Linked DNA regions of Homo sapiens. The protein of the gene in region 2 interacts with the protein of the main gene of each other region in a pairwise test. Each region holds a gene or a part of one and is shown on either strand. Other genes may lie near its edges. The genes, in order: SOCS6, ZMIZ2 and RANBP3.

Region 1 (2,577 bases), on a different chromosome or scaffold from region 2:
GGTAATACATTACTGAAAACCAAAATTAAGCTTTAAAAACAAACACCATTATTATACACATCACAACAAACTTTAAACAAGTAACATACAGATACAGTAAAAATCTACCAGTAAGAATTCATCTGACTTTCAAAGCATGCTAACCCAGCTGCTTCAACCATCTAGCATATTATTGATATGGTCAGAACAATGTGTACCACAAAAATCACTGTAAGTGCCACCATAAACAGCACCAAATAATCAGCTACCCAGAGCGCTGGGTAAAAATACCTTGTCTAAAGATTAACACTGAACTATTGAAATTGTTTTTGATGGAAATCTTATCTAATAGGAGCCATACATTCCTGTCTTCAAAAAGGTATTTTAAGCACAAGTGTGTATATTAAGTATAATCTCAGACTGTCACAAACTGCTGTATATAAATGGATGCCTCTCCAGATGACCAAATTTATCTGCTGGAAAATTTCAGGATGGCATAATGACACCATTAGGACTTACTGATGTTCAGATTACTGCCTGCCTTCCAGGCCTTCAGATATATCCTGTCTTCTTTCTTTTCTTCTCTATACTCAAGAGTCCGATGCTATGGAAAATAAGATAATCATCACTCCCCAGTCTCCAAGTGTGATGCCCTTTTAACAATTTTAGAAAGTATTTTAGTGTGTTCGCTGTTAGGAGTGATAAAACAGTATCAGAACAAACATAATCAGAGCAGAAGGCTCTGCAGAGAAGGCAAGTGCGGCATCTTTTTTGTTCTCGGTCTCCCACCAATGAACTGCAATGACCCCACAGCCAGGTCAGGCAATTGCTGCTAACACTGTGACCACCTGTAATCCTTACCAGTCTAGCAGCTTGCACTAGCAATCCTTCTGAAGGCGCCCATTCACTTACTGCTTTCATTTCCATTTCTCTTGCTCTTTTGGTCTCAAACACTTTTCCCACATTAGGCTTCCTTAACAAAAACATTCAAGTCTAACACAGGTGTGGCTGATTAATCAGAATACTACTTTTGACTAGTCAGATTATGTTTTAAATTAATAGTAATAATTACTTTAAATAGGAATTATTACCATTATTATATATTATAAAAGAGGGGGTGAGGAGAACAGTTAGAAAACAAAACTCCCACAGCCAAAAAGTAAACATCCAATAAAAGAAAAATTGAGGGAACTCCCCTCCAAAGAACAACAACAAAAAAAACTGACAAGAAAAACGGACTCCTACTCAGTGGCCAGGCCCCCTGGGATGTGTCAGGGACACAGAAAAGAATTAATAGTAATAATTACTTTAAATAGGAATTATTACTATTACTTTAAAACATAATCTAACTAGTCAAAAGCAGTCAGATAAAGGAGTAGAATACTAGTGTTAAAGTATTAGCACTTGTTATATTTCAGGCACTTAATACACTAACATGCATTATCTCATTCCATTTTCTTTCTTTTTTTTTTTTTTTAAACGGAGTCTCGCTCTGTTGCCCAGGCTGGAGTGCAGTGGCACAATCTCGGCTCACCACAACCTCCACCTCCCAGGTTCAAGCAATTCTCCTGTCTCAGCCTCCCGAGTAGCTGGGACTACAGGTGTGTGCCACCATGCCCAGCTAATTTTTGTATTTTTAGTAGAGACGGGGTTTCACTATGTTGGCCAGGCTGGTCTCGAACTCCTGACCTCCTGCTCCACCCGCCTCAGCCCCGCAAAGTGGTGGGATTACAGGCGCGAGCCACCGCGCCCGGCTATCTCATTCCATTATCACACCAGCTCTGAGAGAAACATCATCATTATTATATACGTAAAGGAACAAAACCTTAAGTTTTTTTTTTTGTTTTAATCTACCCTATAAAATTGAAGTGCTGAAATTCAAACCTAGATCTGCATCCCCATGAGAGACTGTCTTCCTTAGTTAGCATGGAGGGCTTCTAAGTCTCTGGCTTTTCTAATTCCAAAGGAGATTTTCCTTCTGGCTTAATTCTACACCAGAAAACTGAGGATACCAGGAGATTTCAGATAACTGAGGTTTCACTTCACTAAGCTATGTAAGCAGGAGAAATGGGTTTTGGGATGGTGACTTTCTATACACTATACATGACTATACTTCCAGAAGTGAAAGAGATCTGGGCGTCTACACTGCCAGTCAGTCTGGTACTTGAGTCACTCAGACACACATCATAGCTCTACAGGCAGTGACAGTTGTCTCTCTGTGGGGCTGTTGGGGCCATGTAATGATAAGGACTTTGGTTTTATTAGTGCTATGATTTACTCAGCCAGGCAAGCAGACCAGCTCAGAAAAGGACAAACGACATGAAATACCAACAACTTTCTAACATGTACACAGCACATCTCTGCCTTTAAGGTGTAGATAACAACATGAAAACCGCAACTACTTTCTGTATACCCACACCCCTCCTACTCAGTGGCCAGGCCCCCTGGGATGTGTCAGGGACACAGAAAAGAAGGACCACAGTAGACACTCTGCCCTCATAGAACTTATTTGGGGGGGGTGGCGGGGGAACAGCAGAAACAAGTAAACAAAGTAATTACAGACAATAATAGAGGTTATGAAGGAACCACACAAGTCAA
Region 2 (3,651 bases):
AACCCGTCCCCAAGGCCCTCATGCCCAGGCTGACTAGTGCACTCATAAGCCATGTCTTTCTTCTCTAGCCCAAGGGTGACCCTGATGCTTGCTAGAACCGGTAATGCTTGATCAGCCGGGGACTCCGAGCTCCATGAGCTTTCTGCATATCCTGGTTTCTCTTACATAATTAATGTGAGCATCAAATCTAGTCAATTTACTCTAACTGGAAAACAGCTAGGGTATATTACTGGATCGCTTTCTTAAAGGGCAAGGATGACAGATTAAAATAGAAATACAAGGCAGTAACAAAGAGAAGCAACGCATTTTTCTGAAATAATAAAGCCCCCACGTCCTGCTCTCCACCCTGCAAGGGGGCACACATGCTACAGCAGGCGGTGGACAGCAAAACAGCAGACGGCGGCATGATCTGATGGTGCTGCAGGCCGGCCCGCCCATGTCCTGGCTCCGCTCCCACTGCGCCGCTGGGCCAGGCCCCGCCCACACCCCGCCCCACCCCACGGCACCGCTGGGCCAGGCCCCACCACACCCCGCCCCACGCCACAGCACCGCCCCCTCGGCGCAGGACACGCACGCAGCAGCAGGCGGTGACGGTGATCTGGATGGTGTTGCGGCCTGGCTGGCACACATGCTTCAGGTAGAGTGGCTTGTGCGAGGTCTTGTTGTCGCCACGCTCGATGGTGAGCGGCGTGGCATTGACGCTGACCTGCACCGAGGCTGGCCAGTTGGTGTTCATCTGCCGGTCCTCGTGGTGGTAGCACTTGAATTGCAGCTCCAGGTCAGGCCTGCTCAGGAAGATGGGTGGACACCCAGAAAACGGGCCCTGAGAGTGTGGGAGGAGGAACAGAGCCTCGTGGGGGTCAGGTGGGGGCCAGGCGGAGCTCACCTCATTATCAGGGTCTTGTAGACTGAGTCTCGCAGCTGGAAGACATGGTTGCTTACAGCCAGGTTGTGCTGCAGGCGGAAGGGCTCCAGGACCACCCCATCGCGCACAGGGAAGGTCAGCCGCAACTCGTCACAAGGCCCGCTTCCTGGGAGCAGAGGCCACTGGCTGTGAGCTGGGTTGCCCCAGCCAGAGCGTCTTGTGTCACTCAAGGAGGGCAGCGGCTCCCCAGCCACCTTCCCCGCAGGGACCTTGGTGAAGGGAGCCCCTCCTGTCAGGCACTGCTTGGCAGGCCTGAGTGGTGCCCTGGGGCTGGGGCCATGGGCAGCATCTCTCCTGAGGCCTGGGCATTCGGTCGTGATGTTCTGTCTTGCCTCCTGCCTCAGCAGTCCAGCCCAGTGTCCCCTAAACCATAATAGGGGAACATGTCCCCAGCCCAGACAAAAGGTGTTTCCAGTGCTTTCAGAGAGACTGGGAGGCCAAGGTGTGTGAGAGCCTCCTGCAATTGCCCTATAGCTCTGTTTAGAGTTCTACGATCCCAACTTCTGCTGCTGTGGTCTCCCTGGAATGGGCTTCCGGGGTTCATAAATCCCCTGAAATTATATACAACATTTTGTGCACAGGGGAGAGAAGAGCCACAGCCTCCTTTGCAAAGAAAGCCACAAACAGAACAAAAAGGTGAAGGCTTGGCACTAAGCGACTTGTCTTTAAGAAGATGGAATCCTTGGCCTTTTTTTTTTTTTTTTTTAAGACAGGGTCTTGCTTTGGGACCCAGGTTGAAGTGCAGTGGCAAGATCACACTCACGGTAACCTTGAACTCTTGTGCTCAGCCTCCGAAGGTGCTGGGATTACAAGTGTGAGCCACCACACCCAGCCCTTTTCTTAGGGATATGGCAGCCATCCCCTGTCCCCCAAGCTCCTACAGGACTCTCTGGAGTCCTGTGATTCCCCCATGCCCACCCTGGCCTTGTCACCCCGCTGTCCCAAGAGTGGACAGACTTACCAGAGGGCGATGAGTGCAAGGAGTTGAGGTTGGGCTTGAGATCAGGCAAGAAGGGAGACTTGACCTCTTGGTTTGGTGACATGTAAGGGACGCTGCTGCTTGGGGTCATGGGTGGCGTGGGGTTCCCTGGCAGTGGGGAACTGGGATAGCCCGGGATGGAACGGGTAGGCTGTAGGGTTGAGCACAAACAGTCAAGGCAGATTGCCAGGGTGGATGGGAGTGGAGTCTGTTCACGGCGCACCCACTGGGAACCATGATAACAGAGGTGGACAGGAGGCGGCCCCAGGGGTGCCTGCCCGGTCGCCCTCTCTCCATATGCCCACCCTGTGAGCCTCCCGGCCCATCCTCCCGGCCAGGCCCCCTACCCCACTCAGGCCAGGTTGGCTGTAGCTGACGCTGCCCCCGTTGAAGCTGGCGCCCTGCCCGTTGAACTGCTCTGTGGGCTGCGGGAGAGAAAACTGCATGCACCTGGGGCTCCAACCTGACCCCTGCCGGGCCCCCTGGACCTGACCCTAGAAGCCCACCATACACGGTCTTCTTTACACTCTCTTGTATTTTCCAAATAATCTACAAGTAACACTACTTAAAGCAATCATAGCCACAGAGGAAAATGATCAAACAGGTTGGAGGGGCTGAAAAGACAAAAGCACGCTAAGCCCTCCTCCTCTCCTCCCCCAAGCTGCACCACCCGGCGCACCCAGGCTCCCAGGGAGGTAGGCTCTGCCCATGCACCCAGAAAGGGTACATGGCCAGCAGCGAGGGCCTGTCCTCTCAATGGATTTCTCTGCAGCAAGTAGAAGGAATGACACTTTTCCATAAAGAACATTCAAATGTTTTGGGTACCCACCTGCTGCTCCCTGCACAGGATACCCCTGAGATATATGAATCTTGTAGAGGGTCCTTTCGGAACTGGATCCCAAACCCCAGGAGCTGCTCCTGCACTGGTCAGAATGCCCCCACCCCCCACCCCCCATCTCCTGTAGAGCTGTGGTCCATGAGCACACATGGACCTACACATCCTGCTGGCCCCTTTAGCCACCCTGTCGCTCTCGAGGACAGGACTGCCCCAAGGTCCCCTGTCCCACAGCACTCAGCACGGAGCCCGGCACAGGGCCTGGAGGAGCCTGCCCTACCTTATAATGCAGTCCCGTGGGGCCAGGCACGGACAGGGACTGGGTCATGCCCTGCTGCAGGGGCAGCCTGTGCCCAGGGTAGGAAGGGGAGGGGGCAGGGGGCTGCCCAGGGCTGGGCGCAAACTGGGCGGTGCTGGGTGCATACTGGCCTCCTTGCAGATACTGCTGCCCTGGATACACCTGAAAAAGAGGCAAAATGCCCGAGGGGAGAAAAAAGGCATCAGGGGAGCTGGTTCCAGAAGGAAGTAGAGTCTCATGTGTGGCAGGGTTCGGGGAATGGAGATTTCCTGGTTCCCTTGAAGATCCTGCTGTGACACTGTCAGGCACAGGCAGTTCTCACATGCAGAAGCCTGTTTTTTTTTTTTTTTTTTTTTTTAATTTGAGACAGTCTCACTCTGTTGCCCAGGCTGAAGTGCAGTGGTGCAATCTTGGCTCACTGCAGCCTCCACCTCCTGGGTTCAAGCAATTCTCCTGCCTCAGCCTCCCAAGTAGCTGGAATTACAGGTGCACACCACCACGCCCGGCTAATTTTTTTTTTTTTTTTTTTGAGATGGAGTCTTATTCTGTCACCCAGGCTGGAGTGCAGTGGCATGATCTCAGCTCACTGCAACCTCTGCCTGCTGGGTTCAAGC
Region 3 (3,651 bases), on a different chromosome or scaffold from region 2:
GCCTGCTTAGAGGATTCGCTTAAACTGATAAACGAATCCCGAGGCCTGTAACCAGTCTGAGACTCTGTGTGTGTGTGGGGCGGGAGGGGAAGCCTCTTCCCCACTTTCCCAAAGACGGTACCAGGAGTTCCCCCATGGGTCGCCCCCAACATCTAAGCCCTCCTTAGAGGAGATGCCTCATAGCTCACGTTCCCGATGAGCAGTGTGTGCCATGTTCATGGGCGGCTTGGAAAAGCTCGGACTCCTGCTGTAGGGCCAGAGAAGGATACACACAGCGAGCCTGGCGAATCTCAACAGTACTGGGTGTGGTCAGAGGGCAGCGTGGGTGTGGCCGCATGGCTCCACCCCAGACCCACATGGAGCAGTGGCTTTGGAGCCAGACGCAGGAGCTGGGAATGGCAGCCAGCACATCACAACTTCTGAGCTCAACCATTTGGGAACAAGCTGTGTGCACTGCTGAGAAGGGGCTGGAACCGGCAGGAAGACGGACTCCGTCCCCTGGGATGGGACACAGCAAGGCCTCTCCAGTGAGGAACAAGCTCTCGGTAGCGGGTGCTACCAGGTCAGCCTGTGCACTCACCATCGGGGACAATCAGAGACACTGGGAGATGGCGGGACGGGCTGGGTCACTTCTAAGTCCTTCTCCAACTCAGAACTGCACACCTGATCTGCTCAGGAGACCTCAGCAGTCAAAGCTTCCAAGCCGCAGAATGCGGTGGAAATGATCCCTATTTCCAATTCAGCAAACTCGTTTGAAAAAGGGCGTGAGGATGTTTTCAAATTTAATTGTGGACAGCCATTTTCACCCTTTGAGCCAGAACATCTACTGGGGATGGAGGGTATAAAACTGCAGGCCATGGACACAGAGCGGAAAATAAACACAAAGATCCAATCTGGCTTTTACACAGAAGATACCACATGGTGTTACCCTAATTCTGACTTCAAACCCATCTCTGCCAACTTCAAAGGAGGCTCTTCATCAAAGGCCCTTATTTCACAGTGGCTGTGAAACACAAAGCTTTTGGCCCATATAATCCAAACCATACCCCCGCTTAAATGGAACTATTTCTTTTTTTAAGGCAGGGTCTGGCTCTGTCGTCCAGGCTGGAATGCAGTGGTGTGACCTCGGCTCACAGCAGCCTCCCCTTCCCGGGCTCAAGCAATCCTCCAGCCTCAGCATCCTGAGTAGCTGGGACTACAGGTACATGCTACCATGCCTGGCTAATCTGTGTATTTTTTGTAGAGACAGAGTCTTGCTATGTTGCCCAGGGTGGTTTTGAACTCCTGGCCTCAAGCAATCCACCTGCCGCGGCCTCCCAAAGTGCTGAGATTGCAGGTGTGAGCTACCGTGTCCGGCCTAAACAAACTATTTCTGAGATGACTCCCAAAGAAAAATTTTCAACTGGAACCACACAGATAGGAGTCTCTGAGGGGTGGTTTGGGTGTGGACACAGAGAGGGGAGACATTCCTCATGTTAAACATTGCAAGACACCCATCAGTGACAGCCGTTCCTCGGGCCCTAGTGACTCCTCAGAGTGCAGTGGTTCAGGTCCTCCCTCAAGGATCACTCCCGTGAGACATGTGGCGGTCAGCCTTGGGTAACAGGCCCTTCCGGCAGAACTCTGGGCAACAGGTCCTTCCGGCAGAGCTTGCTTGGGAGACACTCTTCTTCTGCCTGACCAGCAAGACCACCCTTGGGAATCTAGATCTGGTTTGTCAGGTACTGTTATTTAGAGCCTACTGAGCAAATCCAGAGAGCCTTACAATAGGCCCACGTGGAAACTGCTTGGAACAGGTGACAGCGTGTGGACTCCACAGCATGCTGGGAAGGCTGCCCTCCCGCTCCCAAGGGGCCTAGCATGCAGCGCTTCCCTGCCTCAGGACCCACTGACCTCAAGTGCACACACCTCATCGGCAGCTTCGGAAGGACTTCTCCATGCAGCAGTGTCAGGGGATGCTGCGGGCACTGCCCCCGTGCAGTCTGCTGGGAGGCTGACCCCGTTGGTGCCACTGCTGGGGACTGTGGGAGGGAAGGAGAGTGGGGAATCACAGGTGCTTGGCGGCCCTCCCACCCCCACTCACATAGCTGAGGGGCTGGGCCACGTCTAGTCTAGGGCCCCTCCCATGGTAAAGCCCACAGCACATGTCTCCTTTTTAAGGAAGGACCTGGTATCTCTACAAAGAGCCAAAATTCTTGGATTTAAAAAAAAACAAGAGAAACAAACAAAAAAGAGAAACCTGCCGGGCACAGTGGCTCATGTCTGTGGTCCCAGTGCTTTGGGAGGCTGAAGCGGGGAGAATGCTTGGGGCCAGGAGTTTGAGACCAGCCTGGGCAACACAGCAAGTCCTCGTTTCTAAAATAAGATAAAACAAACTGGCTGGGTGTGGTGGTGCACACTTGTGGTCCCAGCTACTTGGGAGGCTGAGGTGGGAGGATCGCTTGAGCCCAGGAGTTCGAGGCTGCAGTGAGCTATGATTGCACCAGTGCACTCCAGTCTGGGTGACAGAGCAAGACCCCATCTCCAAAATAAATAAATAAATAAATAAATAAAATGACCTTTCAAGTTTTTAAAGATAACCTGTGAAAATTGAGGCTGAAATTCTATCTGCAAACACACAGGGATAAATCTCATTCCCAGGAGCCGGCCTGCTTTTATGAAGACAGTGAATGAACAAAGCAGGTTTCACCCACACAGTCACACTCAGCCGAGAGCTGTGAGGAAGCTGTGGAGCCGCCTCTCCCTTCTCCGTTGCCAGGGCTCAGGAGGCTTGGGGCTGGAGACGGCTGGGGGGTGATTTAAAGGATCATCTTCCCTGATCTCTCTGTATTTCTGGTGCATTCAGCAGTCACCTCTGTCGCAACACTGCTGTCCCGGGTGCGACTTCGGGAACGCTCTACCCTGCCGTCTGGGCCTGGGCGCCAGGGCTGCTGTTTCTTACCAGTCTGGGACAGCGCCTTTGGCTGCGGAGCTTGTAACACTGCCGGGCGAAGCACGCTCCGCTGCTGCTCCTTGGGCTTCTGGCTTGGCAGACCTAGGAACAGAAGGCGGCCTTCCCAGTGCCCGTGGACCCCTGCCTGCCCCCAGGCGCTTCAGAGACTGACCCCTGGCATCCCATTTCATGCCCCTTGCAGGCTAGACTTTGCAGGGAAGCACTTTTTTAAAAACTTGAGGTCTTTTTTTAACAGCTGGCCAGGAGATCTGGCTACTGTTATTTTTACATGTGATTACATGAAACTCCCAGTGACCGACGCCTGTGAATTAATCCAGTTAGCACAGTAACGTGGCGGGGCGCCGGCAGACTCAACAGTCAAGTGGAGACTGTGGGAGGAGAGCAGTGCATTCACAGGCAGCTACCTGGAGGCTCAGGACTCGGTGTGGGGTCACGTACAGGCACATTTTGCACCTGTTTTTCAAAACAGCCATGCTGAGGAAGTCCCTCTGCCAAAGGCAGATGGGACAAGGACCCTTGCATGTGCCCTGCCCTGTGCAGCATCCCCGGCAGCCTCACTAGCAGCCGGCTCACTAGCAGCGCGCCGCTGGAATGCAGCCACCCTGCTAACTGGGGCGAACACTGTGGTATGTGGGGGCCAGAACATGAAGGACAGACAGGCTGAACCAAGTGCGCTACTGCTGGGCATGGAGCCCGCC

What was found.
Region 1: the proteins of ZMIZ2 (region 2) and SOCS6 interact in a two-hybrid assay, tested with the Homo sapiens proteins (one large-scale study listed by BioGRID and IntAct).
Region 3: the proteins of ZMIZ2 (region 2) and RANBP3 interact in a two-hybrid assay, tested with the Homo sapiens proteins (one large-scale study listed by BioGRID).

What each region holds. Positions count from the first base shown.
Region 1 is NC_000018.10:70,292,969-70,295,545, reverse strand, and holds part of SOCS6 (suppressor of cytokine signaling 6), read right to left. Parts: exon of another isoform or gene 499-2,577; intron 468-498; exon of another isoform or gene 1-467. UniProt on the Homo sapiens protein: SOCS family proteins form part of a classical negative feedback system that regulates cytokine signal transduction.
Region 2 is NC_000007.14:44,758,829-44,762,479, reverse strand, and holds part of ZMIZ2 (zinc finger MIZ domain-containing protein 2), read right to left. Parts: intron 3,200-3,651; coding exon 3,020-3,199; intron 2,917-3,019; exon of another isoform or gene 2,905-2,916; coding exon of another isoform or gene 2,734-2,904; intron 2,330-2,733; coding exon 2,252-2,329; intron 2,056-2,251; coding exon 1,887-2,055; intron 1,059-1,886; coding exon of another isoform or gene 1,032-1,058; coding exon 887-1,031; intron 786-886; coding exon 575-785; intron 1-574. UniProt on the Homo sapiens protein: Increases ligand-dependent transcriptional activity of AR and other nuclear hormone receptors.
Region 3 is NC_000019.10:5,929,511-5,933,161, forward strand, and holds part of RANBP3 (ran-binding protein 3), read right to left. Parts: intron 3,035-3,651; coding exon 2,942-3,034; intron 2,022-2,941; coding exon 1,894-2,021; intron 1-1,893. UniProt on the Homo sapiens protein: Acts as a cofactor for XPO1/CRM1-mediated nuclear export, perhaps as export complex scaffolding protein. Bound to XPO1/CRM1, stabilizes the XPO1/CRM1-cargo interaction. In the absence of Ran-bound GTP prevents binding of XPO1/CRM1 to the nuclear pore complex.